Homo sapiens: one gene and its partners. The protein of the gene in region 1 interacts with the protein of each later gene in a pairwise test. Each region holds a gene or a part of one and is shown on either strand. Other genes may lie near its edges.

The links.
Region 2: the proteins of ASPH (region 1) and RCN1 interact in binary tests that used the Homo sapiens proteins (3 or more experiments, as listed by UniProt).
Region 3: the proteins of ASPH (region 1) and PRAP1 interact in binary tests that used the Homo sapiens proteins (3 or more experiments, as listed by UniProt).
Region 4: the proteins of ASPH (region 1) and SDC2 interact in binary tests that used the Homo sapiens proteins (3 or more experiments, as listed by UniProt).
Region 5: the proteins of ASPH (region 1) and ENPP6 interact in binary tests that used the Homo sapiens proteins (3 or more experiments, as listed by UniProt).
Region 6: the proteins of ASPH (region 1) and SPINK1 interact in binary tests that used the Homo sapiens proteins (3 or more experiments, as listed by UniProt).
Region 7: the proteins of ASPH (region 1) and TXNDC15 interact in binary tests that used the Homo sapiens proteins (3 or more experiments, as listed by UniProt).

What each region holds. Positions count from the first base shown.
Region 1 is NC_000008.11:61,515,529-61,519,482, forward strand, and holds part of ASPH (aspartyl/asparaginyl beta-hydroxylase), read right to left. Parts: intron 2,596-3,954; coding exon 2,504-2,595; intron 2,134-2,503; coding exon 2,000-2,133; intron 1-1,999.
Region 2 is NC_000011.10:32,089,398-32,094,127, reverse strand, and holds the start of RCN1 (reticulocalbin-1 precursor), read right to left. Parts: upstream 3,055-4,730; 5' UTR 2,932-3,054; coding exon 2,678-2,931; intron 1-2,677. UniProt on the Homo sapiens protein: May regulate calcium-dependent activities in the endoplasmic reticulum lumen or post-ER compartment.
Region 3 is NC_000010.11:133,350,153-133,353,417, reverse strand, and holds the end of PRAP1 (proline-rich acidic protein 1 isoform 1 precursor), read right to left. Parts: coding exon 3,257-3,265; intron 2,038-3,256; coding exon 1,985-2,037; intron 1,412-1,984; coding exon 1,278-1,411; intron 1,172-1,277; coding exon 978-1,171; 3' UTR 735-977; downstream 1-734. Other genes in the region: ZNF511-PRAP1 readthrough, read right to left, coding at 978-1,171, 1,278-1,411, 1,985-2,037, 3,257-3,265. UniProt on the Homo sapiens protein: Lipid-binding protein which promotes lipid absorption by facilitating MTTP-mediated lipid transfer (mainly triglycerides and phospholipids) and MTTP-mediated apoB lipoprotein assembly and secretion.
Region 4 is NC_000008.11:96,496,530-96,500,427, reverse strand, and holds part of SDC2 (syndecan-2 precursor), read right to left. Parts: intron 1-3,898. UniProt on the Homo sapiens protein: Cell surface proteoglycan which regulates dendritic arbor morphogenesis.
Region 5 is NC_000004.12:184,088,571-184,092,524, forward strand, and holds the end of ENPP6 (glycerophosphocholine cholinephosphodiesterase ENPP6 precursor), read right to left. Parts: exon of another isoform or gene 3,527-3,954; intron 2,813-3,526; coding exon 2,607-2,812; 3' UTR 136-2,606; downstream 1-135. UniProt on the Homo sapiens protein: Choline-specific glycerophosphodiesterase that hydrolyzes glycerophosphocholine (GPC) and lysophosphatidylcholine (LPC) and contributes to supplying choline to the cells.
Region 6 is NC_000005.10:147,828,464-147,833,181, forward strand, and holds the start of SPINK1 (serine protease inhibitor Kazal-type 1 precursor), read right to left. Parts: upstream 3,209-4,718; 5' UTR 3,115-3,208; coding exon 3,060-3,114; exon of another isoform or gene 2,946-3,059; intron 2,408-2,945; exon of another isoform or gene 2,042-2,407; intron 1,168-2,041; coding exon 1,136-1,167; intron 1-1,135. UniProt on the Homo sapiens protein: Serine protease inhibitor which exhibits anti-trypsin activity. In the pancreas, protects against trypsin-catalyzed premature activation of zymogens.
Region 7 is NC_000005.10:134,894,596-134,898,549, reverse strand, and holds part of TXNDC15 (thioredoxin domain-containing protein 15 isoform 1 precursor), read right to left. Parts: intron 2,257-3,954; coding exon 2,126-2,256; intron 1-2,125. UniProt on the Homo sapiens protein: Acts as a positive regulator of ciliary hedgehog signaling. Involved in ciliogenesis.

The DNA of each region.
Region 1 (3,954 bases):
CTCAAGCTTCCTCTAGAAGTTCCTGATAAGTCTGACTCTCAAATCTTTATCTCTAGACTTACCTTCTCCCCTGAGTGCCAGGTCTCTATTTCCAGCCACCTCCTGGATGGTTCTACAAGTGTGTTCCAATAGCAACTAAATAAAATACATAAGCACTAAATTCATCTTCCTTTCCTTGAACTTGCCTCATGCCTCCCAAATTCCCAAGGTTTGCTCAAGCATCGCCACCCTCCACTGTCCAAAGACTGCAATTGCAGCAGCATCTTGGATGCCCCATTCCTGTATCACACATTCAAGAGTCACCTCTTGCATCTGCTCTCTAGTCTCCATTTCTTTCCAGCATCCCAATTCCAGCTCTGTTTATCTTTTGGGTGGGCTGCTGTGACAGCCTGCTAATTGTTCTTCCCACTGTCCCCATAGGATTCACCCATGGGTTCCACAGTAACTTCCTAACAAAGGTCTGATCCCATTAGTTTGGGATTCAAAGCCTCCTATGATTTAGTTTCTAAAAGACTCTTTCACTTTGCAACCTTATTCTTTATGTACCATACACTGCTGGCTGCTGAATTATTATTCAATATTCTTCATATGTGGCCATAATTTTTGGCCTCTGTGCCTTTAATGGATACTGTTCCAGAATACCCCTCTTTAGCTTTCAATGTCCGAATCCTTCTTGTCTTTAAAAACCACCACTCTGCAAGTTGAGTGTCTGTGAGCAGGTGAGGCTCCTGCTCATGGAGCCATCTGTAGTATTTTTAGCTTATCTGTAGAGAGGCCATCTGTAGTACCTCTTCTATGACCACGGTGGCCTTCAATCTTGTGTTATCTTCCTGAGCAGACACACCTTGCTAGGTGTCCTCAGAAGAGGACGGCCCCTTCTGAGTCATCTCTGAATTTCCCACAGCACCATGGGCTGCCCAGGGCAGTTATCTGCCAATAATCAAATAGACAATTCTGCAGACCCCTGAACACTCATCCTCCACTCAGACCTCTACTAAGAACAATAAGAAATGTGTAAGACAACAATAACTTGCTTTCTGATCTCCAGGAGCTTACATACAGCTTGCTATGGAGATAAGGGTAATATATATTAATGAATAAAGAGTAATAGAAGATAGGAATGGGATTACTGAGGATATATACTCTGAGAGGTTCTATTTTTATAAAACTAAATTGGATCTTAGTAATAGGTTTATTTTGGACAGGTGAAAAGACGGGCATTCTAGGGACAGAGATTATCAGCATCATAGGTACAGAAGCCAGAGCAAGTATGGTTTGTTCAAAAGATCATGAATAAACATGTCAGGATTAGGAAAGTAACACGCAAGGGAGGGAGAGGAGATCTAACATTCATCACGTCCCGACTGATACCAGAACATGGACTGAGCACCTTATAGGCATTATTCCAGTTAATCCATACAACAACCCTGCAAAGTAGATGTTATCACTGCCAATTTTATAAGCAAGAAGGCTGATGTTTGAAGGGATTAAGTAACTAGCCAAGGTTACACAGGTTAGGTGTTAGAGCTGGGATTTGAAAAAGGCAGCCAGCTTCCATTGCACCATACCATCTCCTCTATATCAAAACGTATAAATATCATGGGGTGAGTTCTTCAGTTAGGGGTACTTCTTGTAGTCATGAATAAGTCAAGTTGCAAAGCAGGAAGCACAATGCATAACATCTGCAGGGCTCAATGCATGTTGGCTGACTCTGAATGCACATCTGTCTACCCAGAGAGAGAAACAAGGCAGCTCCTCAACTAGATAAGTACTCTGCCGAGAAATAATGGAGGAGGGCAGCCCTAGAGCTGGGCAATGTCTCCAGGCTAATAGAAAGCACCAAGAAGGGATATAGACTTAAGAGTTTGGATTAATATCACTTTGCTCCAGTCTACTTCAGCTACAAAAGAAGATAAGTAATCCAAAGGAACACAACTGTGTTGTAACAAACTCTCATCCTCTGAGGTGACGGATATGACGGATAACAGAGGACCCATACTTGGTCTCGTTGGCACATCGAATCTTGCAGCCTTCCTTGGGAATCACCAAGCCCAGGTGCATTCGGAGCCTGCAGTTTGTGGGCCCTGTGTGCGGCCACACGTGAGTCCCGGGGTGCATGATGGAATATTTGATCTGCATAGAAAACATGACACTCCATTCAGCCATTTATCAAGGTGTGGAGGAACTGCTAAGTTAAGGTGACAGTACAAAATTACTGTCAGTTTGGATTAGAGCCTTTGTAAGATTTAATATTTATATTCAAGTCTTATTTCTTTGTGAAGGAACTAAAAATAAGCACTCACATTTTCCACAAAGCTATAAACACTGAACATTTTCCACCCTCAATTCTGACGTCAACCACATAAAATTATGTTTCAGTAAAAAGGGCATGTAAAAAGAGGCATTCATTGGGCCAAAGGAAACAACCATTTCTTTGTAAAGGTCAACACGCCCTTATTCCTAACAATTAATTGTATTCTCCCCAGCACGACACTCTTGGTACCTGTCCTCTTCTGCATCCTGTTGTCTCGGGGAACTTTTCTAGTAAGGTACAGGTTTTAGGAGCTCCTTTGCAGGCATTTTCATTTCTTCTTCCTAGAATAAATAACATAATTGTTGGAAACAAATCACAGTAAAGCTTAAACTTATCCCATTTAGATGAGGTGAGAGCTATATGTCATCCTCACTGCAGGAATGAGAAGATTGAGTAAACATGAGAAGATGAAGTAGGAATGCAAAAGGCTTATTGGAAATAAATAAAAATTTATCAATAAAGAAGACGTGTCTTGCTCCAATAGGTAGTGACTGGCAGAGCAGGGATCCAAATTCTTCACTCGGTGTTGGACTATTTGACTAAGAATGTCTAACAGACAAGACACAGGTTAAAGGCCTTTGACCTTGAATAACACAGGGATTAGGGGCTTCGATCCTCCATGCATGTTAAGTTTTGACTCCCCAAAAACTTAACAACTAATAGCCTACTGTTGACTGGAAGCCTTACCCTATATCATAAATAGTTGATTAACATATTTTGTATGTTATATGTATTCTATACTATAGTCTTACACTAAAGTAAGCTGAAAAAAAGAAAATGGTATTAAGAAAATAATAAGGAAGAGAAAATACTTTTACAGTACTGTACGGTATTTTATCGATACCATAAGTTTACATCATCTGTTTACAAGATGAATTGAATGTCTGAAATGGCCTGCAACTACAGGTACAGACCTTAATCTACAGTACATATCAATCAATTCAACTTTTTCTTGTAGGGTCATGACTTTTCTCTGCTTCTTGGCAGCGTGTCCATCATCATTAGTTGCTCTTTGTATAGGTCCCATGGTGTTATTCGAGGTTTGCAGCATTGCATTAAACACAAGGAAAAATACACAAGAACCATAAGAGACCACTTTTCACCGTGATATGCAATTTACCAGAGAGAGGAACTGCTCACATGGAGACGACAGTATCACATGGTATTTTAAGCAGATACTGAAAACACTTGAGCTTGCCGAATAGCAACAGGAAGCAGCTATGAAATTATTACAGTAGTATAATCTGTACTACAGTTAATTTAATGGAGTTATGATTTAACACTGCATCTTCATGTTTGTTTACATTTCTCTTGACTATGAATGGTGCTATGTATGGTCTGTAAGTGCTTCCATGCATATGTTGATAAATTTTATTTCTTTATAATAGATTTGTATATATATAGTAAATGATACAATAGATTAGTACCTATATATATTTCATGCATTCATGACATACCTAATTTTTCTTAATTTTAAAAAATATTTCCAGGCTATAAGGTTCATCTGCAAATTTTTTTCAGATTGCCACAAATCTCAAAAAAATTTCCAATATATTGACAAAAATTCTTACATAAGCGGACCCATAACATTCAAATTCACGTTGTTCAAAGGCCAACTGTACTTATTTTTTCCCCTGTGA
Region 2 (4,730 bases), on another chromosome or scaffold:
ACACTCAGCCCCATCCCAAACAGGACCCATAATTTCCAGCACCTCCTACCCCGCCTCTACCCCACATTTAACCTACAAGTGAATGGTGCATCCATCACCCATCTGGTGGCTAAGGCCAGAGACCCGGATGTCCCCTTGATTCCTACCTCTCTCTTCTCCCCCTCATTGAGTCAAGAGCAAGAGCTGCCAGTTCTGCCTCCCACTGGTGTCTAGATTCATCCCCTCCTGGAATCCGGAGAGACCAAGCCCCTTTGGCATTCACCTCCTCTCCCTGCCACTGGTCTAGTCTGTGCCTTGATTATGTTCTCTGTGTACTGCCCTCCTGCCAGCCTGACTTTCCCAATGAGTTTTGGGGATTATGACATTTTGACAATGTACAGGATAACATCTCATGTCCATCTCACCAAGGTCCTTCCTGCTCTGCCCTTGGTTTCCCCTCCATTCTCACCTCTCACTTCCCTTCCCTGCCCCTTTGCAGACTCACCACCCCTCATGCCCCAGAACGCTTTTCAAACCCTTTAGAAATGGGCTGTTTTCTCTTCAGGAAGGCCTTCCCCTGCTGTACACCTGGCAACCTCCAAGTCATCCTACAAACTCTGATCAGGTGACAGCCCCAATCCCCTCTCTCTAACCTGCAGCCTTGGCGGCTCCTTCTCCTGAATGTGCTCACAGTAGGTTTTATAGGCCATCATTGCAGCAATTGTGCATAATGGCTAGTTTGTCTGTGCTTCTCTCCTCCACATTTGCTTACAAGCACTTCGACGCCCAGAGCATAAGGTTTCATCTTTGTACCTGCCAGTTATCTAAACTGGGGCCTGGTACACAGTAGCCATTCAAATGTTTGTTGCATGAATAAATGAATGAAGTCAAGGTGTTGATACAAGGATCAAATCCAGACCAACTTCACCGTCACTTTTTCTCACTACTAGGCTGAACTGTCACAATGAAGGCATTAACTGGAAGCTGCATGACCACACCTTATAAAGTTTTCCAAATCCCAAAACCTCTCCCTGCCTCCTCTCCAGTGACAATGTGGCTGCCACTCAGGGCTCCAGGATAAATCAGTCTCCAAGTGCCTCAAAGCAATACAATAGACTGAACTCATCAATGGCCCCTATTGTTAAGTCCTAACTGAGAAGAGAAAGTACTCTGCAAGATAAAAGGTAATTGTTTGGAGGTGACTTTGAAGTTCAAAGGTCTTTTTATCAGAGCAGGCAAATGGTGCACCTACACAATAGGTATAATTTATCCTCATATTCCAATGAAACACTTTGGCCTTTGGAGGCCCCCAGGAGCACAGGGATGGCTGTGTTCTCTTTCATGTGGCAGAACATGAAGATCCTCCACCCCCAGGAATCAGGTTCAGGGAGATCTGAGACCTGGTGCCCAATAGGCAGGACTGCTGGTTTCTTCCCCAGCCCTGCCTCCATCTGGGACCAGGCTGCCTGCTGGGTCCTCTGTGCAAGGACCACCAGATACCTCCGCACAGTGCCCAAGTGTTTCCTCAGGGGACCCGGGGAGGGTGTACTAAAATGCGCCGAAGTTTTGTTTCCCGGGTTTGGTTCCTGACTCAACTGCCTTTAACAGCCCAAGTCAAAATCCTCCACCACCAAGAGAACCCTCCAGCTTTTTGCCCCCCAAACAAATCAGTTGCCAAAGAACTGAGTGCTTCTGCAGACATCTGCTGCCAACAGAAACGTTTCAGGCGAACCGTTTCCATTCCTGCTCCCTCGTGTTTCCAATCGGAAACTGCGTGTCCCTTTTCAACCGGATTTTTGTATCCCTACACTAGATTTTATTTTATTTTTATTTTTATTATTTTTGAGATGGAGTCTCACTCTAGCCCCGGCTGGAGTGCAGTGGCGCAATCTCGGCCCACTGCTACCTCCGCCTCCCGGGTTCAAGCGATTCCCCTGCCTCAGCCTCCCAAGTAGCTGGGATTACAGGCGTGTGCCACGACGCCCGGCTAATTTTTGTATTTTTAGTAGAGACGGGATTTCGCCGTTTGGTCAGGCTGGTCTCGAACTCCTGACCTCAGGTGATCTCCCCACCCCTCCCCCCGCCTCGGCCTCCCAAAGTGCTGGGATTACAGGCGTGAGTCACCGCGCCCAGACTCCTTACGATAGATTTACAGGGCGATTAGGCAAAAGGCAAGACCACTGCGGCCGAGACCAGGAAGCAAGCCTGTCGCTCGCCTGCCCCTTCATCTTTTATCCATTTATGTTCATCCCTGAGATTTTCTTAGCGAGTGTCTCAAGCCCTTCTCCCCGGGAGTGGGGGATCAGAGAGAAACTGCGAGAGAGTGGGGAGGAACTCATGGCACTAACAGGCCACTGTGGACAAACTCTTCTTTTGTGCACTCTCCCCTCCCTTCTGATGCAACCTGGGGGAGGGGGCGGGCCCTCGCCGTCCTGGCTCCCGCGGCCGCTGCCACGTTCTCGCCTCCCCGCGAGAAACCACCCCGGCCGGGGCGCGGCGGCGGCGATCTCCAAGCTGGGGTCCCGGGGCCCTCCAGCAAGTTAGCCTGAGCCCCAGCGCCGAGTTGGGCAGGGCCCCATCCTCGAGGCCGCGCGCGCGATTTCGCTTTCGCTTTGGCGGTGGTATCCCGCGTGGCTCTCGCCCAGGCGGCCCTCGGACACCTGCGCCGCCCCCCACGGGGCCCTGGCCGCGGCCTCACCCTAGCCTCTCCTTGCTCTCGTCCGGGGTGAGCTGGTCGAAGGTCTTGGAGTCCTCCTTGCCCAGGAAGGCCTCGTGGTCGTACTGGAAGCTCTGGTTGTCCTCAGGGGGCCGCTCGCCCAGCTCCGAGTCGGGCCGCACCACGCGCTCTTTGCGCACCGTGGGCTTGGCCCGCAGAACCCGCGGCGCCAGCACCAGCGCCAGCAGCAGCCCCAGGGCTAACCCCAGGCGGCGGCCGCGGCCACCGCGCGCCATCGTCCCGAGGAGAGGGCGGCCGAGAGGGAGACGCTGAGCGAGCGACAACAGCGGCAGCTCGGGAATGGGGACTCGGAGCGCGGCGGCAGCGACAGGGTTGGGGCCGGCGCGGAGGAGGGGACTGGCCAGTCCCTCCGCCAGTGCCCGCCCCGAGCCGGAGCAGAGGGGCGCGCCTGGGCCTCGGGCTGGGAAGCTGCGGGCGGCCCCGCTCGCGCGCCCATTGGTCGCTGAGCTGCCGGGGGAAGCCGGGGCCGCGGAGCCACGTCGCCAGCTGGGGTGGTGGGCGCGGGGCTCGTGTTTCGCCTCGGCCCCTCCCCGCGATCTTGTTGCTAGGGGCGGGCCCGGGCGAACTGGGCTAGGGACTGGAGGGCTCGGAGGAGGATTGGGAAGTTCTTTGTCAAGCAACAGATGTGCAGGATAAAATTCCCTCTGACTTCCTACAGTTCCGGGAAAACTGTAAGGAAGGAGACGTTGCCCTTCCTCAACTTCCAACTGAGACCCCGAATCTCAGCCCTAGACCCTGCTCTAAGATGTGCTCTCAAACCCAATTCAACCCCATTTAGTAAAATTTGGAGTCTGGTTACAAACGCGAGCCTGGAAGGAGACCAAGACGGGCGAAGTCCCCTAGAAACGAGGGTCGTACTGTCAGTCGTCAAGGAGGGTCAAGCGGGGAACTTCTATATGACCAAGAGTCCCTCTAAAGGGAGCGGTACTGTGCGTTCCAGCTGCCAGGGGAACGCAGGCCCCACGCTGATAGATAGTCCTGTTTCCCAAATGAAATCAATCAGGATTTTAGATTTTTATGTTTTATTTCTAAATGTTGGTAACTCATTTTACAAAAGCACTAGTTGGATCCAATCTTACCTGTATTCAGTTGGTAATGCTACCAATACAGATATCTGTCCCATCAAACTTTCTGCAATGATGGAAATGCCCTCTATCTGGTCTGGCCTGTAGGTAGTGGCTGTTGAGCACTTGATGTGTAGCTTAGTGTAAGTGAGGCACTGAAATTTTAATTTAAATCTAAACTTAAAGAGCCACACGGGACTAATGGCTACCGTATTGGACGGTGAGGTCTCGAGCAGTCTCAGCCTTTTGACACTCATTGAAAGCCATGATCCTCTTCCAGAAAAATGCACATACAGCTACTGACACGGGTGCTTGATTAAAGAGTCGGAGGATTCATGGATCTTTTGAAGCCCCACCTATGAGCCCCAGGTTAAGAATCCCTAGAAGGCCGGGCACGGTGGCTCATGCCTGTAATCCCGGCACTTTGGGAGGCGGAGCCAGGTAGATCACTTGAGGTCAGGAGTTCGAGACCAGCTTGGCCAACATGGTGAAACACCGTCTCTACTAAAAATACAAAAATTAGCTGGGCGAGGTGGCGGGCGCCTGTAATCTCAGCTAGTCGGAGGCTGGGGTAGGAGAATCGCTTGAACCTGGGAGGCGAAGGTTGCAGTGAGCCGAGATCATGCCATTGCACTTCAACCTGGGAAACGAGAGAAACTCCATAAAAAAAAAAAAAAACCCTAGAAAACTGAAACGATAGTTGAAGAGGGAAACCCACCATGACAGCTAAATATCTGTACTCCTAGAAATTTCCTCCATCTTGCCTTGCCTCCCACCTCCATCCCTGATGTTTTCAAAAAGGTCTGGGATGTGCTTCTTGCCCTTGCAATAAAGATGTCGTCGCAACATAGACGCAAGTCCCTTTCTTGGGACGCCCTCTTTCAATCAATTAATAAATCATTACTGTCTTACTACTACAGCCTAAGCACTGGACTGGGTGCTGAGGGTAC
Region 3 (3,265 bases), on another chromosome or scaffold:
GGGATGAGACTGCCACGCAGGAACCCCGCCCACATTTGCATGTGCCCAGGACACATGCGGTGTGTGAGTGACTCCAGCAGCCTGGACCTGCGCTGCAGCATTGGGCCTGCTGGGCCAGGAGGACAGGATGGGCACCCAGAGTGGGAGCTGCACAGAACGTCAGGAGGGCAGAAAGGCCATGTCCTGGGCCTGGGTCTACCCGCCCTCACCTGAGACCTGTGCACTTTCCACCTGAGCACATGCACGTCCGTTCAGCTGGGCCCTGAGCCCCAGGCACTCGGCCACCCTCCTCCCCGACCCTGTCTCAGGCTCCTGCTGTAGGGAGCCCAGGGTGGGTTCTGTTTCTCAGCTGAGACTGGTCCCAGGGTGCCCTCTGGTCCCATCCCCTAACTGCTGCCACACCCCTCACCATCCCGGTATACAAGGAGGAGGGCCTGGGGGTAGTGCAACCTTCTGGGAGCCAAGGGTCACCTGGGCCTTGTGCAGCCCTTGATTCTCCTAGGCAGGGCAGGCTGGGCCCCGGTCATCGGTCTTCTGGGGCATGTGGCCTCCCACCTGTTTGCAGGGGTTGATTGATTGATTGATTGATCGATTGAGATGGAGTCTTGCTCTGTCGCCCAGCCTGGAGTGCAATGGCACGATCTCAGCTCAATGCAACCTCCGCCTCCCAGATTCAAGCGATTCTCCTGCCTCAGCCTCTCAAGTAGCTGGGATTACAGGCACCCGGCACCATACCCGGCTAATTTTTGTATTTTTAGTAGAGACGGGGTTTCACCATGTTGCCCAGGCTGGTCTGGAACTCCTGATTTCAGGTGATCCGCCTGCCTCGGCCTCTAAAAGTGCTGGGATTACAGAGGTGAGCCACCGCGCCCGGCCTGCTGGGGTTTATTTGTCTAGCTGGGGCAGGGTAGGGAGGGTCCCAGTCCCAACAGCCTGGGCCTTGGGACAGGGCGGGGGCAGTGATGGCCCCTGGAGCCCTACTGGGGGTGGTAGATGTGGTCTTGGTCTTCCTCCGGTCCCAGGAGCACCTGGTGATTTGGCATCACCCACAACCGGGGCCTCTCCTCGCCCTGGTCCTCCTCAGGCGGAGGGTGGTACAGGCTGTCATGGTCGGGCTCGGGACTCAGGACATGGCCCAGGGTGTCCTCGGTCTCCATCCAGGCCTTGGTGCCTAGGGACAAGCACATGAAGGTATAGTCTCAGTTTCTTTCCCGAGACCCTTGGTCTGTCCAAGTCAACCCCACGAGCGGACTCTGCTGCTGTGACCTTGTGCCCACCTGGAAGGATGGGGCCCCTGCCCTGACCTCGTGGCTTCTCCTCGGTGGTCAAGAGTTTCGGCTTCTGGACAGGGAACAGCACCACCAGCTGGTCGTCCTTCTCCGGAGGCTCCACCACACGGGCGCCCCAGGCCCTGCTGGCACAGTTTGGTCAGGTCCACATGCAGGTGGGGGAGGTGGACAGAACCCCCCGCAGGAGGGTGCCCACCATCCCAGGGCAGCCACTCCAGCCCCACCACCAGCAGCCCCAGGACAAGCCTCTCTCTCAAGAGCCAGTGATGAGTGGCCCCCAGTGCTCCCGGCCAGGCTTCCACACCACGTCCCTGGGTGGCTGCGTGGGGAGCAGTGGTCAGAGCCTTGGTTGAGCAGTGTCCCAAGGGCAAGGATGTGGGGAACCTCAGGATCCAAGACTGAGCCGCCCCAGCTACAGCCACCAGCCGTGGAGCACAAGCTGCCCTGGAGGCTGTGGGGAAGCTGAGTAGGGAGACACCGTGGAGCCCCAAGCCCTCCGGCTGTGCTCTCTTCTCCCTGCATGGGGCGCTGTTGACAGATGCCCATGAGGCTGGAGTGCCCCCTCCTTCCAAAAGCTGCTGGACAGGGCTCCTCTCTGCATCTGCCCCGTGCTCTCCAGGTTCAGGAAGGGCCCAGCAGAACGGGCTGTAGCTTCAGGGAATGGGTGGTGGGGAGGTGGGGTTGGGGGGACTTACTTCTCTGGGTCCTGCTCTGAGGGCCAGTGTTTGACTTGCATCTTGATAGGGACCTGGGGGAGAGTCACAGGTGTGGGCTGGGCCACAGTCCACGCGGGTGGAGGACACCTGGGGAGAGGTTGCTCCGAGGCCCACCTGGGGCTGCATGGGGTGGAGGTGGCTGCAGGGGGTGGGGGCAGGGCCAGCTCAGCACAGCTCGAGCGTCTCTAGTGGGCAAGCCACTCTCGGGTGTTGGGATTGCAAGCCGGGATTGAGGTTGCCGGCCTGTGCCCAGATGACCAGCTGGCCTGGAATTCTGGCCGGGTCTGGGGCAGCACAGGACTGGGATGTAACCTGGCACCGTATCCCTGACCTAGCACTCCCAACCCTGGCCGTCAATGCACTGGCTGTTTTCTGCAGTGACTGGTTGGGTCTGTGTCTGCACCACCCCTTCCTGGCTGGTGCCGAGAGAACGCGGTCAGCCGCTCTGAGCCCAGCTAACCTTAGTTGTCAGCTGCTCTGAGCCCAGCCAACCTTAGTTGTCAGCTGCTCTGAGCCCAGCCATCCTCAGTGGGGCAAAGGACAGACAGGAGAGCAAAGCAGGTGACCCCAGGGGAGGACCAGTGGCTCCAGGGGAGGACCAGCACCGTGGGGGGGCTGTGCCCATGCTCCTGCGTCTCCAGTCAAGGAAGGCGTGGGCCTCCTTCCTCCCGATCCATCCCAGGTGTGCAAGACTGTGTGGCCTTGACATGGGCCAGGGAACAGGGCCCGTCCCCAGGCATAGTCCCGGCTGAGGACACCACTGTCAGCACAGACAGTGCAGCTGAGCCACTAGCACATGGAGTCACCTCTGGCCTTCAAGGCCCAGGTGAGTATCAAGGGGTGTCATCCGGGCCCTCCTCCACCTGGGTCACATGGGTTCATCTGGGATCACCTGTTCCACTTGGGACCACGTGGGTGTCATCCGGGCCCACCTCCTCCACCTGGGGTCACGGGGGCTCATCTGGACCCACCTCGTCCACCTGGGGTCATGTGGGCTCATCTGGACCCACATCATCCACCTAGGACCACCTGGGTGTCTTGAGGCCTGTCCATCTGACCCCAGGGAAGGGAAGCCTGCCCCCTCCTCATGCCTGCACAGGCATCAAGAGTCATGAGCGTACCCATGCCTCTCTCCCCTAAGCCAGCTTGGGGTTTGAAGCCAGAAGAGGGGCCCTTTGTCCACATCCCCTGCTGTAGGGGCAGAAGGTGACAACTGGAGTTGCTGCCCAGATGGGAGGGGCTCACACCTACCTTGGGTGC
Region 4 (3,898 bases), about 35 Mb from region 1:
GGCCTCCCAAAGTGCTGGGATTACAGGCATGAGATATCGCGCCAGGCCACATTTCCACACTTAAAAAATAAAAATAATCCCTTTTCTGCCCCCAGATCCCCAAAATATACTCACTACCCCTGCCACCTCATTCTAAATGACCAACGGCATACCAACGCATGATACAGACTAAATTCTAACTCTCTCCTTCCCATGTGCTGGAATCTCAGCACAGCCTCAGGGAAGAGGAGGAGGTGTGACTGTGCACAGCTGATGTGTCAAGACGTTACATCAATGTCTTCTTTATTCTTGACACCAACCCTGCAATGCTGATGACACTGAGTGCAGAGGCATCAAAACTGGACAACTAGCCCAGGTCCACTGGGGGCTGGTGTATTCAGTTGACCCTGAACCATAATGCCTTCAGTGGCCAGCGTGAAACTTCTTCAGGAGTGCCAACCAACCCCAAAATGTCCAGGCCCACGGGTATCTGCACTTCAGCATGCAGTGTCAACAGATGTTTACCCAGCTCAGCACTGCACAGGAGTAGGAGATTTGGAAACATGGTTTCTTCCTATAGCACTAACCTTGATGGGAGAGAAAATTCACCTATTTAGAATGTCAGAGAGGTAAGAACATCTGACATGGCTCCCTCATTTCATTCATTTCATTGCCAAAAAAAAAAAGGCCAAGAGAGGAAAGGAAGAAAAAAAAATGTCCTATCTTCCGTGCCTCAAGCACCATTCATATGCTCCCTTCATTTCATCTTCACAACAGTCATGTTATAAAGGCATTCTTAGGTCCAATTTACACACACACACTTTTTTAAGTGACTCAGAGCTTTAATATACTGTCCAAGTTCTGACACATTAAGTGGCAAGGTACCAGCATCTGAACCCAGACTTGTCCACCTCCCAAGCCCAAGCCCTTTGTATTCTAAGCCCAGCTACTGCTGAAAACTCTAGTAGTAACATAGAATAGCACATAATTAAGGGGTAATGCTGTGATCTAGACCAGCGATTCCCAAATTAGTCTGATTCATTAGAATCATCTCAGTCGCTTTATAAAAATACAGTTTCCCCCACACTCCCACCCCCATTCAGGTTTCTGATTGTGTAAGTCTGAGAGGAGGCCTGAAATCTGTATTTTCACATACTTTCAATGATTCTGATCATCAGTATGCCTTGCTATTTACAGAAGGATTAAAAACAACAGGGCTGGATCAGCCATGAAAAGGTATTTGGAGCTTGCATTTAATCAATAGCATTTAAAAGGAGAAACACTGAAAAAGTAGCAATGTCCAGGGAGTGTTCATGATAGTGATATCAATGGGCCAGGGCTGGGAGATGTGGTGGAAAGTGATCAAGGGGGTAACCAGAAAGGAAGGCTATTATGGGGCCGCTTATAAATCCAGCAGAGGCATACAGACTATATGCCATGATAACAAGGACACGGAGGTGTCTAGACCATGGGCAACATGATCAAAGTGGTGGAGGACAAACCAAACTGCATGCAAGTGTCTGGGCCAGGAATGGCAACTACAAGGCTACTGACATAGAAGCACAAGCTGGCATGCCCCCAAGGAAGAAAAAAAGAGGGAAAGCTCTTCATTTGAAATTTTCTGTCCCATCAAGATTAGTGCTGCAGGAAGAGACCAATGGCCAGGCATAGTGGCTCACGTCTATAATCCCAGCACTTTGGGTGGCCGAGGCGGTGGATCAGCTGAGGTCAGGAGTTGGAGACCAGCCTGGCCAACACGTTGAAACCCCATCCCTACTAAAAATACAAAATTTAGCCAGGTGCAGTGGCATGTGCCTGTAGTCCCAGCTACTCGGGAGGCTGAGGCAGGAGAATCGCTTGAACCTGGGAGGTGGTGGTTGCAGTGAGGTGGCTGCAGTGAGGTGGTGGTTGCAGAGTGCCATTGTACTCCAGCCTGGGTGACAGAGTGAGACTCCATCTCAAGAGGAAAAAAAAAAAAGATTAGCGCTGCAGGAAGGGACCACATTTCCAAACCCCGACTTCTTTGCAGTGCTGAGCTCAGGTCAGGAGCTGGGTAAACACCTGTTGGTGCTGCATCTTTAAGTGCAGGTTCCCATGGGCCAGGGCATTCTGGGGCCGGTTGGCACTCCTGAGGAAGTTCCACGCTGGCCACTGAAGGCATGAAAAAATGAACGGAAAGATCACTAGAATGCAAGCTCCAAGAAGGCAGGGGGATATCTGCCTGGTTTGCTCACTGCTTTACCTCAAGCACCTAGTAGGTATGAAATAAATATCTGCAGAATGAATGCACAGCTGGACTTAGAGGCAGACTGGACGTGGAAACCAACAAAGATGAATGAGTCCAGGGCTTCTTCAAGATTTAAATCCAAATGATTAGAATGAAAATGATAGTACTGTCACAGTTGACTAAAAAAGTTAAATAAGAGTAGATTGGTTTTAGCAAAGATTCTTCTTCATTACTTCTGGCTTTTCTCTAAGACTTTATTTTGGCCTCTAGTCCACGAAAAGAATTCAGTGGTTTGGAGATTCTGCAATGCACCCTTCTGCCTTGGGAAGAAGAAAAGGATGGGCAAAATCTTTTAGTTTGATTTTTGGCAATGGAAGAAGGACAATCTAGTGAGAATCTAAACCCAGATGGCATTCCTCACAGGACAACTGGATCCCCACCAGCAGGTATGCCAACAGCACAGTGGCTTGACTGGACTTGCTATAAACCTTAATGACAGGGCTGGTGGGGCTCTGTGTGACTGGGTCAGCTTCAGGGGCCTTGCCAACCTAAGGAGACTCCAAGCCACCTCTAGCTGGCCAGTCAGGTCTCTGGGGGCTTTTGGAGACTTGAAAACTAGTTCCACCCAGGGAACAAACCAGTTCACCTTTTGAAATCCTTTCCAAACTAATGATTATCCAAGGCGCCATTTAAGTGATCATATTACACAGGGTAGGCTACCCCTCGAAGGGTGGTTACCATCAAAACTAGACATATCAGGTCCTAAAAGCAGAAGCTGAAGGGCATGCTCAAATTGCTTCTCAGACATCCATTTTCTGCAAGCCTGATCTTTCAAGATCTTTCCTTCTTAAATGACATCCTCCTTCTGCTAATACCCAACTAAGAGAGAAAGAGCCCTTGTTTTTATAAAATTCCCTAGCAAAAGCAATTTGTTTCACTCATAAAACAGCCAAACTATATTTTCTAAAGAACTGCAAAGTTACATGATTTCGATTTTAGTTACCCTTCTAATGCAAACTTTCCAGAGCCTGCCTTTCATAATACACCGAGAGATAATGCATGGGCCCAAATGACTTGACAGTTTCTTTTAATTTACAGACATCTAAGAATGTTTATAAAATTCCTCTAGTTCAAAACACTTCCTTTTCTTAAACATATTTCCAGTTCAAATTATGTGTTTATAGCAGTCTGCAATATATTATTTCTAAAGATAAACAGTCATGTACAAAATGGACAGAAAACCAGCAGCATATCACTACTGCCACACTCAGTCAGATTTTCCCCTTGCCTGGTGCTCCGCAGCCAAAGTCCTAACCTGCCAGTGGAAAGTATGAATGGATCACTAGGAACAGGCTTTCCCAGCTGCCTCCAGGATCCATAAAGGAACAGCTACCAGTTCCTTTTCATAGGCAGTTTTGAGCCTTAGTTCCTGAGAACCTCTTTTTTACCCCCAGAGCTAAGTATAAAACTTAAGAATTCACTAACTGTAGGCAGTTTTCCTTTCTTCCTTTAAAGGGAGACTTTAAACCCAAATCACTACTTCTAAATCCCAGGAAACAGTTGCAGTTTTCAAATTAAAATGCAAAGTCCTGGAAATAATATTCTGTAATTGCTAATTTTTTTTTAAATTCAGTCTTTTGACTTCATTTATATTTTTGCTGCTATACATGAAACAAACGGAGACTGAAAAGT
Region 5 (3,954 bases), on another chromosome or scaffold:
TCCTAGCAGATTTTAGTCCTATGGAAAAAAATACATTTAGAGAAAGTGGAATTTTCCTAAGGAGAACAATGTAATTTTAAAACAAAAATAAAAGGGAACAAATTTTCACCAAATAATTAAGCCATAAAAAATATATGCATTATTTAAGTAAAAAGCTTTATTTTTTTCCCTCAGTGTCTGAATCTTCTTTATTGTTTACCAGGATTCATGATTCCTTTTGTAACTTGTTCTCAGTCATTTATTCAGTTGAGTAATTACACTTTGTCAGACAAATATCTAAAGTTTTATTATGTAACTTGCAGATTTTCAGGACGAGTGAAGGAGGAAAATGGCAGAAGAGTTCAGGAAAGACAAAAATGCAAGACTGTGTCTAAGTTTATGCCTCTCTTGAGTTTGATGATCCAATTTTAATTTAATCATTTGAGTATCTCTTAGGGATTCTTCCTCCACAGTGGAGGAAAGTGGGCTCTACTGAATTCATTGGAACACCGTCCTTTAAGGAGAAAGAAACTTTGAACAATAGACGTCTTTTTCAACAACTACTGCCAATGTTTTGAAAGTTGTCATTTGTTTTCAGCTAGATAACAAAGGCTGAAGAGTTGCCTTCTTTCCAATTGATCCGATGGTTTACTGGCGCTTTTAAAACACATTACATAAATCTTTAGAAATCTTTTGTGAAGGTAAATTCAGTATTTTTAAGCAGTGATCCTTTGCTCTCATGATTCATGGCATGGAGACAGCACCCAGCTTTCCTGAATCAAGGTGAACGTTGATATTCAGTTTTCAAGGTAACACACCATATAAGGCCTCCATCGTCCTGAGGAGACCTGATATATTGCCTTTTCCTGACAAAAAGTCTCACTTGCAGATGTACCTCAATTAGTGCAAACTTTTTTTTTCTTTCTATTTTTTGGGGGGGGTGGAGGATGGGGTCTTGCTCTGTTGCCCAGGCTGGAGTGCAGTGGTGTGATCAAAGCTCACTGCAGCCTTGACCTCCTGGGCTCAAATGATTCTCCTGCCTCAGCCTCCCAAGTAGCTGAGACCACAGGCATGTGCCACCATGCCTGGCTAATTTTTTAAAAATCTTTTATGTTTTGTAGAGATGGGGGTCGCCCTGTGTTGCCCAAGTTAGTCTGGAACTCCTGGCCTCAAGGGTTCGTTTGTCCCTCCTTGGCCTCCGAAAGTGTTGGGATTATAGGTGTGAGCCACCATGCCCAGCCCAAACTCATTTTTTAATGCAGTGATAGTGTATGCAAGTATATATATGTATATAGATATAAATGATCATGTAAAAAGGAGTTATTTCTTGTGTTACAATTTCTCCTATAGCAAACACAGATGACTAAGCTAAAAATATTTCAACTCAGGCTCAGTGGCTCTTCTCAAAGGTATCAAAAGAACTTAGGTCTCAAAGGTGGTACTTTGGCCAAACTGTTTCCTAATCAAACGACCAGTTAGTTGGTCAGTGACTGGGACTCTGCTCCATCATGCTCTCTCCATTCTCCACCCAGCACCATTTTCTTTGGAATTCTATGCCACTCAAAGACTGTTGTTGAGCAAGCCATGCTGCAGGGGTACTGGTGTCCAGGATTAAGGCTTAGTGCATCACCTCTCTGAGCAACCCACCGAGATCCTTGCTGATGCCTCCACATTCTCATCAGTGAGCCAGCCCTTTCCCAGGCTATAATGTCATGTCAGGGATTGCTCTTGTCTGCACCCTATATTGGGAGCCACAGAGTGGCATGTCTGAGGAAGCCTTTGCACAGGTGAACGGACAGGGAAGGCAGGCAGGCCATCCATTTGTCCATCAATATGCAGGGCCTGCTATGTGCCGGGCTTCATGCCACGATACACTATGTGTGATAAGTCTCACAGAAGCCCATGTCCATCAGAAGCTTTTCTGCTCCTCAAGGCAAGAGAGAAATTTTCGTGCACTCAGACTTTGGGAGGGCACTCATGTCTTTCACCTTGTTCTATGAGTTCTCCAATCCTTAGTGATTTATTTATTTTTTGATTGATTGGTGATCCATGCTAAGTTACGTCCTTTCTGGAGCTCAGTATAAGATGAAAAAATTCCATGAGCTGGGTCAGAAATAGACAGTAGCTTTTGCTTTCATGTAGACCTCCTTTTATCAGGGATGGAAGGAACAGTACAGGATTGTGGCCACAGACACTGAGGATGGCTCCTGGGTGTGGACAGGGCACAGACAAGGGCCTGGTCTGAGGGGGTCCTTTGTGCAAGGTGGGACAGAGAGGGGCCCAGAGCCACGTCTGTCTGCAATAACCACTCCAAGTTTGGTTGCTGCAGGAGCAGGTCCCTGCTCAGAGAGTTCATCCTGAGTAACGTGAAAAGAAAGGAGAAAATGACATATAACTGCACAAATGGAAAGCTAGGATTTTCCTACCTTCTGGAAAAACAAGGTTTGTATCTTTTTTAACAAGTAGGAACTTTTATGTATAGAATTATCCAAGAATAATGTATTTACAATGTGCATGGTCTTGATTGTGTTAATGAAGCTATTATTCACACATAAAATGAAAATCATCTGGCTTTGGAGGCCCACTTTGCTGATGGTGTTTTTTTCTGAGACAAGCAATATGATCAGTTATGCAAGCAGGAAGAGAAGAATCAGTGCCAGGGCACAGTGGCTGGGCCAGACAGGCGGGGCAGTGCTGGCGCGGCCCTTCAGCATGCACATCACCCTGGACCAGGATCCGTTGTTGGGCAGCGGGGTGATGCCCACCACATTGCACATGACATTGTAGACGTCCACCGACCTGATAGGAGCAGCTCTGAAGTTGGATTTGAAATCTGAAAGGGAAAGGCAAACAAACAAGTTGTCATGGCAGCTCCAGGGCAGAGGTGGGCTGAACGCAATAAAGAAGAATTACATTCAGGCTGCAGGTGACATTGAGATTAGGGAATCAGCTCCATCAGTGGGGTGTGGCCTAGTGAGTGTGAACATAGAAGGGTATCCGGAAGGCTGTAGGTTAGAAAGGGAAACAGCTTTCTATGGCTCATGGAGATGAATTTCTTTAAAAGACAAGCAGCAGAGCCAGGCTTGGGGGCTCACACCTGTAGTCTCAGCAAGTTGGGAGGGCGAGGAGGGAGGATTGCCTGAGCCCAGGAGTTTGAGACCAGCCTGGATGACAGAGCAAGACACTATCTCTAAAAAAAATTTTTTAAACCAGGCATGGTGGTGTGCTCCCAGCTACTCGGAAGGCTGAGGTAAGGAGATCACTTAAGCCCAGGAGTTCAAGGCTGCAGTGAGCCATGATAGTGCCACTGTACTCCAGCCTGGGCAAGAGAGCAAGATCCTGTCTCAAAAAAAGGTAATCAGCAAACAGACTTTCTTTGTGCATAACTGTGCTCTCTTTGTGACAACAGCACTTTCTTTGGGGGCTGCGGGGAGGCTGAAGTGCCATCTGATGCTGCTCCATGTCTGCAGAGAGCACAGCAGAGCCTGTATGGTCACAGAGTGACTGTCTTGCCCTTAACCAAATTAAATGCTATGTCATTTTTCAGAACATCTATCTAGCCCGGACCGACAGCCAGAGTGCCAGCGTCTACTGCAGAGGCCGCACGGCAACTCAAGAATGTTTTCTCACTTTGCTGCCCCATCGAGGTCACAGGTCTTGATGGAATGTGAAACTGCAGTTTTCTCGGTGCTCGCTAGCTCAGCAGCCATGGCGATGGTTTCCTAAATACATTTGGAAGATGAGTGGAACACTCTTTGGGAGCATTTTACCAACAGATAAAATACATTAGCCATGTGGAAAATGAGCAAACTGGTATCTGAATCAGGGATCCATGTGCAGGCTCTGAGCGATCTAATGGAGAAGACCACTGTGCCTCTGCCCAGAGTGGCCCCAAGCTCGAGAGTCACGCAAGAACACACAGGTAGGGTGGCCACACGCAGCACGGTGAGTGAGGGACGCCGAGGGTGACTCCAC
Region 6 (4,718 bases), on another chromosome or scaffold:
CAATTACTGCGGGTGCTGGCATCTCTCAGGTTGGCCACATCTTGGGGCACGTTCTTCCTTGTACACTGTAGTCCACACACACTGGTCTTCTATTAGGCACTTAAAGGCACTAGGCATTGTCGGGTGTTGGAAGTCTTTGCATTCTACTCCAGTAAGAGTTTATAATCATCAAATGATTGTCATTGTCCTAGACATTGTTCTAGTGCTTTTTATATATTATTCTGTTTAAACCTCCTAACTATCCTGTGAACTAAGTATTATATTCTTCTTCAGGTGAAGATAATGAGGCACAAAGCAATAAAATTAGCCAAGGCCACCCAGCTAAGGAATTCCTAAATTCAGAATTCAAACCTAGTCAGAGTTCCTGAGCTTTAGCTCTTAAGTACTTTATTCTACTACATCTCCCCACCAGTTTTGTTTTACTAACACTCATTTTTTTTTTTTGGCTCAAAATAACCCCTCAGTTACTTCGGAGCACCCTCCCTGATTTTTCTAACTAGGCTAAGTTCCTAACGGCAGCAGAACTTTTTCATAACACTTATCACAAATGTAATATTGCATTCATTCATGAACTTTTGGTCTATCAGCTGTCTCTGACTAGATATAAATGTACTGAGAACAGGGACACTTCTTCCTCTGGTCTCCAAATTTACTGAAATTACCTCTTAAACAAAAAAATATGAAAAGGTTAGAGTTAGAATATTTTTCTAGAAGGAGAACCTAGTTTATTATTTTCTGTCATTCATTATAAATTAGAGCCACACCTTGGTGATTGGGAGAGCTGCATGCCAACATGGTCAAACTGGCTGTAAGGAGGAAGGGCTACTTGGAGTGAAGTTGAGAAGGCTTCCACCCCAAATACTTGTCTACAGCTATCACTAGTCTATATAAAAACCCCTTCACAGCAAGCACTGTAGGACTATATGGAACTTGCTTATACATCAGTGAAATTGTCCTTCAATATACGCCTGTGGGTTGGAACTACTACTACCATTTGCATTTCTCACGTTAACCCTCCCTAGCATTCATACTCCTCTTAACTTCAGGCTAAACTGAAAGGTGACAGCAAGGCTGCATTTTTGTTGGATCAAACTGTTCCAGTCTGAGAAATAAGAAATTACAAATATCTCTTTACCTCTCTTCCCAGGGAGTCAGCTCCAGTGTTACCTAGAAATAAATCAGATATGGTAAGTTGGGTCCTAAATGAAAGAAGTCAGATCTATTCTTCATCAGAATTCTCTGCTTTCATTGCAGACTGTGACTTCTTTACTAGGCTCTTTCATTCCCCACCCTTTCTGATTTCTCTAATCTTCCAAAAGTATCTGACTGATTTTCCTGTACCCCTTCCTTGGCAAAACCTTAAAAAGTTTGAGTAAAACTTTGATTATGACCAAAGTATCTCGATTTGATGTTTTAGGAAGTTGATCTATTTCCTTGAAAACAGAAATTATGCACTTACTGCTGGAAATGAATCAGGCACTGAGCAAATTATCTTTTGAATACTCACAAACATTCTCAAAACCAGTTACTAGATCTTTAATCTCACAATTAGTGAAGTATAATTTTTATCTCAGTTTACAGATGAAAGTATGGAGAGTTTTTATAACTAGCTGTGAAACAGTTATCATAAGCAGTAACCAGGTCTTCTGATGCAAAGTTAGCTTTTTCAATTACATTTAAATTCCCTTTTGTAAGTATTGTTGAAAAAATAGAGTTCTTTTGCCAACTCACTATCAGTTCCCAAAGAGCTATTTCCAACAATTGCATCATATGGACTATGGGTCTAACTCACATTTGTTGAATTTACAGGTAGTCAAAATAGCTAATCTCTATTCCCCCAGAAAATAGCAGAGGTTTTGCTGACAACATATAGGAAATGATAACTGTGGATAAGTTCATGGAAGGGAAAGGGAACTAATATGATAGCAATCAAATAAGGAAACATTCCTGAAAATTAATTTTAATATCATCAATCTTTGAGGTGATCTGAGCAAAGAGGTAGTTCTTTGTATCTAAATGTAATGAAAATTAGTGAGGCATCTATGAGCTTGGAGAATTTCCCCCGGGATAGTCAGAACTTGATGTTGTTGGGGGCCCACTGGCTTTTAGAATCTAGTTGAGTCTAAAAACTGAAGAGCAGGTGCTCATCACAGGCATCTATTTGTATTAATTAACATGCATGAGGAGGGGGAAAGGGAACACTGACTGTTGCCATAAATATTCAGCAAATAAAACAAACAATATTCTTCCTCTTCTTAGCAAAGTGCTGATTTGGCTCTCCACAGGATCCTTCACTACATGAGAGGTGAAGTTGAAAATGTTAACCATTTCCAGTGATAAAAAGGAAACTGATCTTGGCTCTGCGGGTTCAGAGTTGTCTGTCAACATTGTCAAGATGCAGTTGGAGGTATATGTGCACCATCTATTCAAGCAGAATATTTTCTTTCAAAACATTCAAAATGTGTAATGTAAATACACAAAATGCAATTTTTGTATTTCCAGATACTAATAAGAAATACCAGGAATTGAAAATAAAAAATTCCCTTTATATCACATATATTAGCTATTCAGGGATAAATCTGACAAACTATACATGATTCAAGTACACTGAAACCTATACAATAAAAAAATAAATTTTTAATCAGTCAAATTATGCCTTTTATACTGAATAACTGGAAGCCATTTATCTATTTTATGCAATCCCATGAGAATTTAAAATTTGTAATTTGGCCTTACACATTTACAGAATGAGAAGTATACTTAAAGTTAAAATATTTTTACCCTTTTTTCTCTACCATATCCCAACAAAGGGTCAGCCACATCAATAGAGGAAAACCATTTTATTTCTGGGAATTTCTTACTAGTAGAATTGTTTTCCTTATAGTAGGTTAAAAATTCCTCTTAAAAAATAATTCTTACCTGTTGATTTTATTTCATCTCATTAGGTCCAAAACATCTCTCGAAGACTAGACTACATCAAAAGTCTAGAAGATAATGTGCTTCACAAAGCAACAGGTCAAAACAGTTTTATTTAAATTTGAAAAATATGCAACACTTACCAGATAGACTCAACAGGGCCAAGGCACTGAGAAGAAAGATGCCTGTTACCTTCATGGCTGAAGTTCTGCGTCCAGAGGTCAGTTGAAAACTGCACCGCACTTACCACGTCTCTTCAGAAGCCTGGGACTGGAAGGGTCATATGGCAGATGGCAGCAAGGCCCCACCTACTGGGCTATATCACAGATCTCCCTGGTTATTGATTGACTCTGTGTCATAGCCTGGCCTCCAGGTTCTGGGAATGTCACCTGTGTAAGAAAGGTGAAAGGAGCCAGGTGGGCCTGAAACATGCAAGGCAAAGATTCTGTCAGGAAAATAGTTCTAGTGGTTAGTTTGATCCCTAACTCCCTCTGTGGTTGTGGGAAAGTCATTCCCTTCTCAAGCCTGTTTTCTCACCTGTAAGATGAACTCAAAGATCCCTTCTACTCTGTAGTTCTGGATAGATGAGCAGGTATGGATAGCTACTAGAAAGAATTTTATTCCAAGTAGGGTAAAACCTCTCCATTCTTTTTTCCTTTCCTCCACTCTTCCTTTCTTATTCTTCTTTCTCTTTTCTCTATTTTTCCCTCACTCATTCACAAAACCTAAAGTAGCTGATGGAGTGGCAGATGAGAGGGAAAGAGAAAGCAAGAGAGAGAGAGGACTCAGTTCCCTAAAGCGTGTATTCTGGAGCTAGAGGGTGCTTGTTGGAGCCACTTTTGCTGTGCTTCTGTGTATTCATCTGGAAATTAAAATAATAATAACACCTAATTCAAAGGGTTACTCTTTCATCTGAGAATATGTGCTGGGTAAAAGAGAATATGTGCTGGATATCTACCATGTGTTATTAGAAGAGAATTCTCCATCCTCTCTCATGTTTTGGTGTGTCTTATGAGTAGAGGTACTGATAACCTTTGTTTCAGACTATCTTTTTAAGGGTGTTTATATAACAAACGACCTTAGAAAATACGTAATGTCTCCCTCTGCACCAAAAGGCAGGTTTGTTTACTGTTTAGTGTAATAAAGTTAATATCTCCTTCTAGGGCAAAGACCATGTTAATTGCCCTTTACAAAAGATTTCGGGTTTTTAAAAGCTTGGCCTTTCTTTCCTTTAACACACTGTACTTTCCCTGCAACTATCACTTGATGCCCCTTAAATTGGCCTGTGGAAATTGGGGCTTGGGAAACCAGAACAAATTCCAATACTCTGGCTGTTGCTATGGAATAATTAAGTCCCTTTTCTCTGAGCCAGGAGTCTGTGCCTTCTGCCAGAAACCATTATAATGTGGCAGGCTAACTTCTTAGCTTCCAAGTAGGATAAAATCTCAAACCCTTCCCAAGTCATGACAAGAACTGTATTTATCTCTTAAGACAGATCAGTAAATAAAAATAACAATCTCTGTCTTCATGGAGCTTCCATTGCCTTTTTGTTGAGGGAGGCAAGTGACAAAAAATAATAAGTGATTATAAAATATATCAGATAAATATTATGGAGAAAAGGACAAGAAGGATAAGGGTGCTGGAGGGTTAAGGAGATATGTATCATAGCGTAATCAGAGAAGGTCTTGCTTTTCAGGTGATATCACACAGAGACATGAAGGAAATGAGGATTTGAACTATGCATTTATTCCAAGGATGTGCATTCCAGACAGAGAGAATAGTAAGCGCAAAGGTTCTGAGGC
Region 7 (3,954 bases), on another chromosome or scaffold:
TTTTCTTTAGTGTTAGCTAAAATGATTATATGCAATTTAATATATATGCAATGTGTGTTATAATTTTTATTTATTTCCAGTGAGCATACTTTGGGAAGAGTGGGATGCTCACAATTGAGACAGTGAGGCTTTAGAGGAATGAACTTTTCCAATGGAGGTAATTTTTTCAATTTACAATGCTTTACAATGTTTTACAAACAATAAAAAATAAGGCCATATGTTTTGGCAAATATTAAGGAACTAAGATAGCATCTACAAATGGATTAATAAATGGAACAGTAGCAGCAAAGAAAAAGAACAAAACATAACCATACATGACAATGCAGGTGCATCTCACAAGCATACTGTTGGATGAAAAAAACAGACACAAAATAAAACATCCTGCATGTCTCCATTAATATGAAGTCCAAAACAAGTAACACAGTCTATGATATTAGGAGTCAAGACTGTGGTTATCTTTATCTTTGGGGAAGGCAGGAGCAGTGGTGCTGAAGGGAGGCTGGTAATGTTCTGTTTCTCTTTTTTTTTTTCTTTTTTTTTTGAGACGGAGTCTCACTCTGTCAACCAGGCTGGAATGCAGTACTGTGATCTCAGCTCACTGCAGCCTCTGCCTCCTGGGCTCAAGCAATTTTCATGCCTCAGCCTCCCGAGTAGCTGCGACTACAAGCACCCACCACCATCCCCAGCTAGTTTTTGTATTTTTAGTAGAGACAGGGTTTCGCCATGTTGGCCAGGCTGGTCTCGAACTCCTGGCCTCAAGAGATCCACCCGCACAGGCTTCCCAAACTCCTGGGTTTACAGGCATAAGCCAGTGCTCTGTTTCTTGATCAGAGTGGTTACCCAGGGTGTTCACTTTGTGAAAATTCATCACCCTGTACACTCATGACTTATGCATATCTTTGTGTAAATATTAAGTGAAAAATGTGCGTTAAAAGTTATAAGTAAAGTGTATGGTATGTGAATTATATTTCAGTAACACTTGTTTTAAAGTATCTATAATAGGCCAGGCACGGTGGCTCACACCTGTAATCTGAGCACTCTGGGAGGCCAAGGCAGGCAGATCACTTGAGGTTAGGAGTGCAAGACCAGCCTGGCCAACAGGGCGAAACCCTGTCTCTACTAAAAAATACAAAAATTAGCCAGGTGTGGTGGTGCGCACCTATAATCCCAGCTACTAGAAAGGCTGAGGCAGGAGAATCGTTTTAACCCAGGAGGCAGAGGTTGCAGTGAACTGAGATTATGCCATTGCACTCCAGTCTGGGTGACAGAGCGAGACTCCGTCTCAGTCAATCAAACAATAAAGTATCTATAATAGACCGGGCACAGTGGCTCACACCTGTAAAATCCCAGCACTTTGGGAGGCCGAGGCGGGTGGATCACTTGAGGCCAGGAGATCGAGACCAGCCTGGCCAATAAGGCGAAACCCTGTCTCTACTAAAAATACAAAAATTAGCTGGGCACACGCCTGTAATCCCAACTACTCTGGAGGCTGAGGCACGCAAATCACTTGAACCTAGGAGGCGGAGGCTGAAGTGAACTGAGATCATGCCACTGCACTCCAGCCTGGGCAACAGAGTGAGACTCTGCCTCAAAAAAAAGGAAAAAAAGGCTGGGTGCGGTGGCTCACGCCTGTAATCCCAGCACTTTGGGAGGCCGAGGTGGGTGGATCACGAGGTCAGGAGATCGAGACCATCCTGGCTAACACGGTGAAACCCCGTCTCTATTAAAAATACAAAAAATTAGCCGGGTATGGTGGCGGGCGCCTGTAGTCCCAGCTACTCGGGAGGCTGAGGCAGGAGAATGGCGTGAACCCGGGAGGTGGAGGTTGCAGTGAGCCAAGATCGCACCACTGCACCCCAGCCTGGGCGACAGAGCAAGACTCAAAAAAAAAAAAAAAAGGGAAAAAAAAAGTATCTATAATAATTAAAATTACCTATTCATGTTAAACTTCATACTGATTGGGAAGTATTTAACAGGATCATAACAGTTCATTAGAAGAGAAGTTTTACAACTCAAAGTCAGTCTTGAATCCTTCACTTAAGGATTATAGCAGATCAGAACCCACAGAAGGCACAGACCCCCAGCAATAGAATATCTTCTTCCTCAGCACATTACTTCCACATACCTGTCTGATTAAAAATGAAGATTTTCAGTGTTTCCAGTGTTCGATCTGTATGATTAAATCTGGCCATTGGTTTAGCTCCTTGAAATAATAAAATATTAGGAACAGCTACGGTGCCAAACCTGGTAGAAAGGCTACAAGAGAAAGAAGTCAAAAAACCTGAATTTATTATTAATAGAGGGCTTTCTCATACAATTACCATCTCAGAATAGACAGAAATAAATGAGGAAGTTGCGTGTGACCTACGGAGATTTCTGATACTTGAAACTTTTGGCTTTTTCATTTGTTTCTGACCTCTTTGCTTATGGGTCATGGCTGGGGGGCACTCCTTTTCTGCAATCTGAGTTGCTTTCAATTATAATATGGATCTACCAATGGCACAATTATTCCACTAGTTAAGTTCCTGTCTAAACAAACCAGACCAGAAAACTCTAATTCATGGACAAAGCACACTGTGTCAACTTATTTGACAGAAAAAATTTCCAACTCTTCAGAATGCCCATCCCTGTCCCTCAAAAAAGATCAACTTACAGTAGGCAATTGGTTTGGTAAGCTGGCACAAGGGAGTATATGATCTAACAAACACACCAGGATGTTCACAATTAGGGCAGGATGACTTGTTTAGAAGGAATATAACTGTGCGGGCTTATTTCACCTTTACATAATACAGACTAGTGGTGATAAGCTCCCAAGTCAAAACACTCTGGGTTGAAGCCTCAGTTCTGCCACTGAACCAATGTGAACTCTGGGCAGATTATTTAACCTTGCTAAGCCTCAATTTTCCGCATTAGTAAAATAGTAATAGTGTATAACCAGGATTTTTTTCTTTTGTACACATGCTGTAACTTAAATATTAACATAAGAAGCAAACATGTCCCAGCCCATATAATAACAGCAAGAGCCTTAGTCTCCATAATTAAGATACAACATGGAGCTGAAGGAAGGAAAGAAGAAAGCAGGTTAGGGAGGGAGTTGCGGGAGAGGCAGGAGGGACAGTGTGAGACCCAGAACCAAAGAGCACTGAGTATGCCTGGGGGCAGTGGAGGCCCCACCAAAGCTGGACACTGACGTGATCTGTCCTTCCAATCAGTCTGCTCCCTTGGGCCCAGTCACTTAGATATAACCCAGAAGCCTATATGAAAATTACTAATTTGTTGAGCCATTTCTTTCTTCATAAAAGTTTCAGGTAAACATTGGCAGTTATATTCCCACAATGAAAATCAGTGGAATACAATTTTTTTTTTTTTGAGACAGGGTCTCACTCTGTAGCCCAGGCTGGAGTGCAGTGACAGGATCACGGCTCACTGTGACCTTGACCTCCCCTGGTTCAGGCAATCTTCCCACCTCAGCCTCCCAAGTAGCTGGGGTACCACAGGTATGTGCCACCATCCTCAGTCAATTTTTTGTATTTTTTTTTATAGAGATGGAGTTCTGCCATGTTGTCCAGGCTGGTCTCAAACTCTTGGGCTCAAGCAATCCTTCTACCTTGGCCTCTCAAAGTGATGGGATTACAGGTGTGAGCCACTGCACCTGGCCTCAAGTACAGAGTAATGGAAGTTTACTCAACTTCATTTTACCACCAATTGACCATTTTTCAGATGTTCTAGATTTATTTACACACAACCTCCTTGTTGAGGCTGACCTACTAAGGAGCATCTGATTTGGAAGAGAAGAACAGTTTATAACTCAGGCACAATCGCAGCACTTAGGAGAAACATATACCATCTCAACAAAGTTCTCTGTAACTTACTTTACTAAACATTTAAAAAAGACAAAAAGTGGCTCACACCTGTAATCCCAGCACTTTGGGAGGCCGAGGCTGGTAGATCACA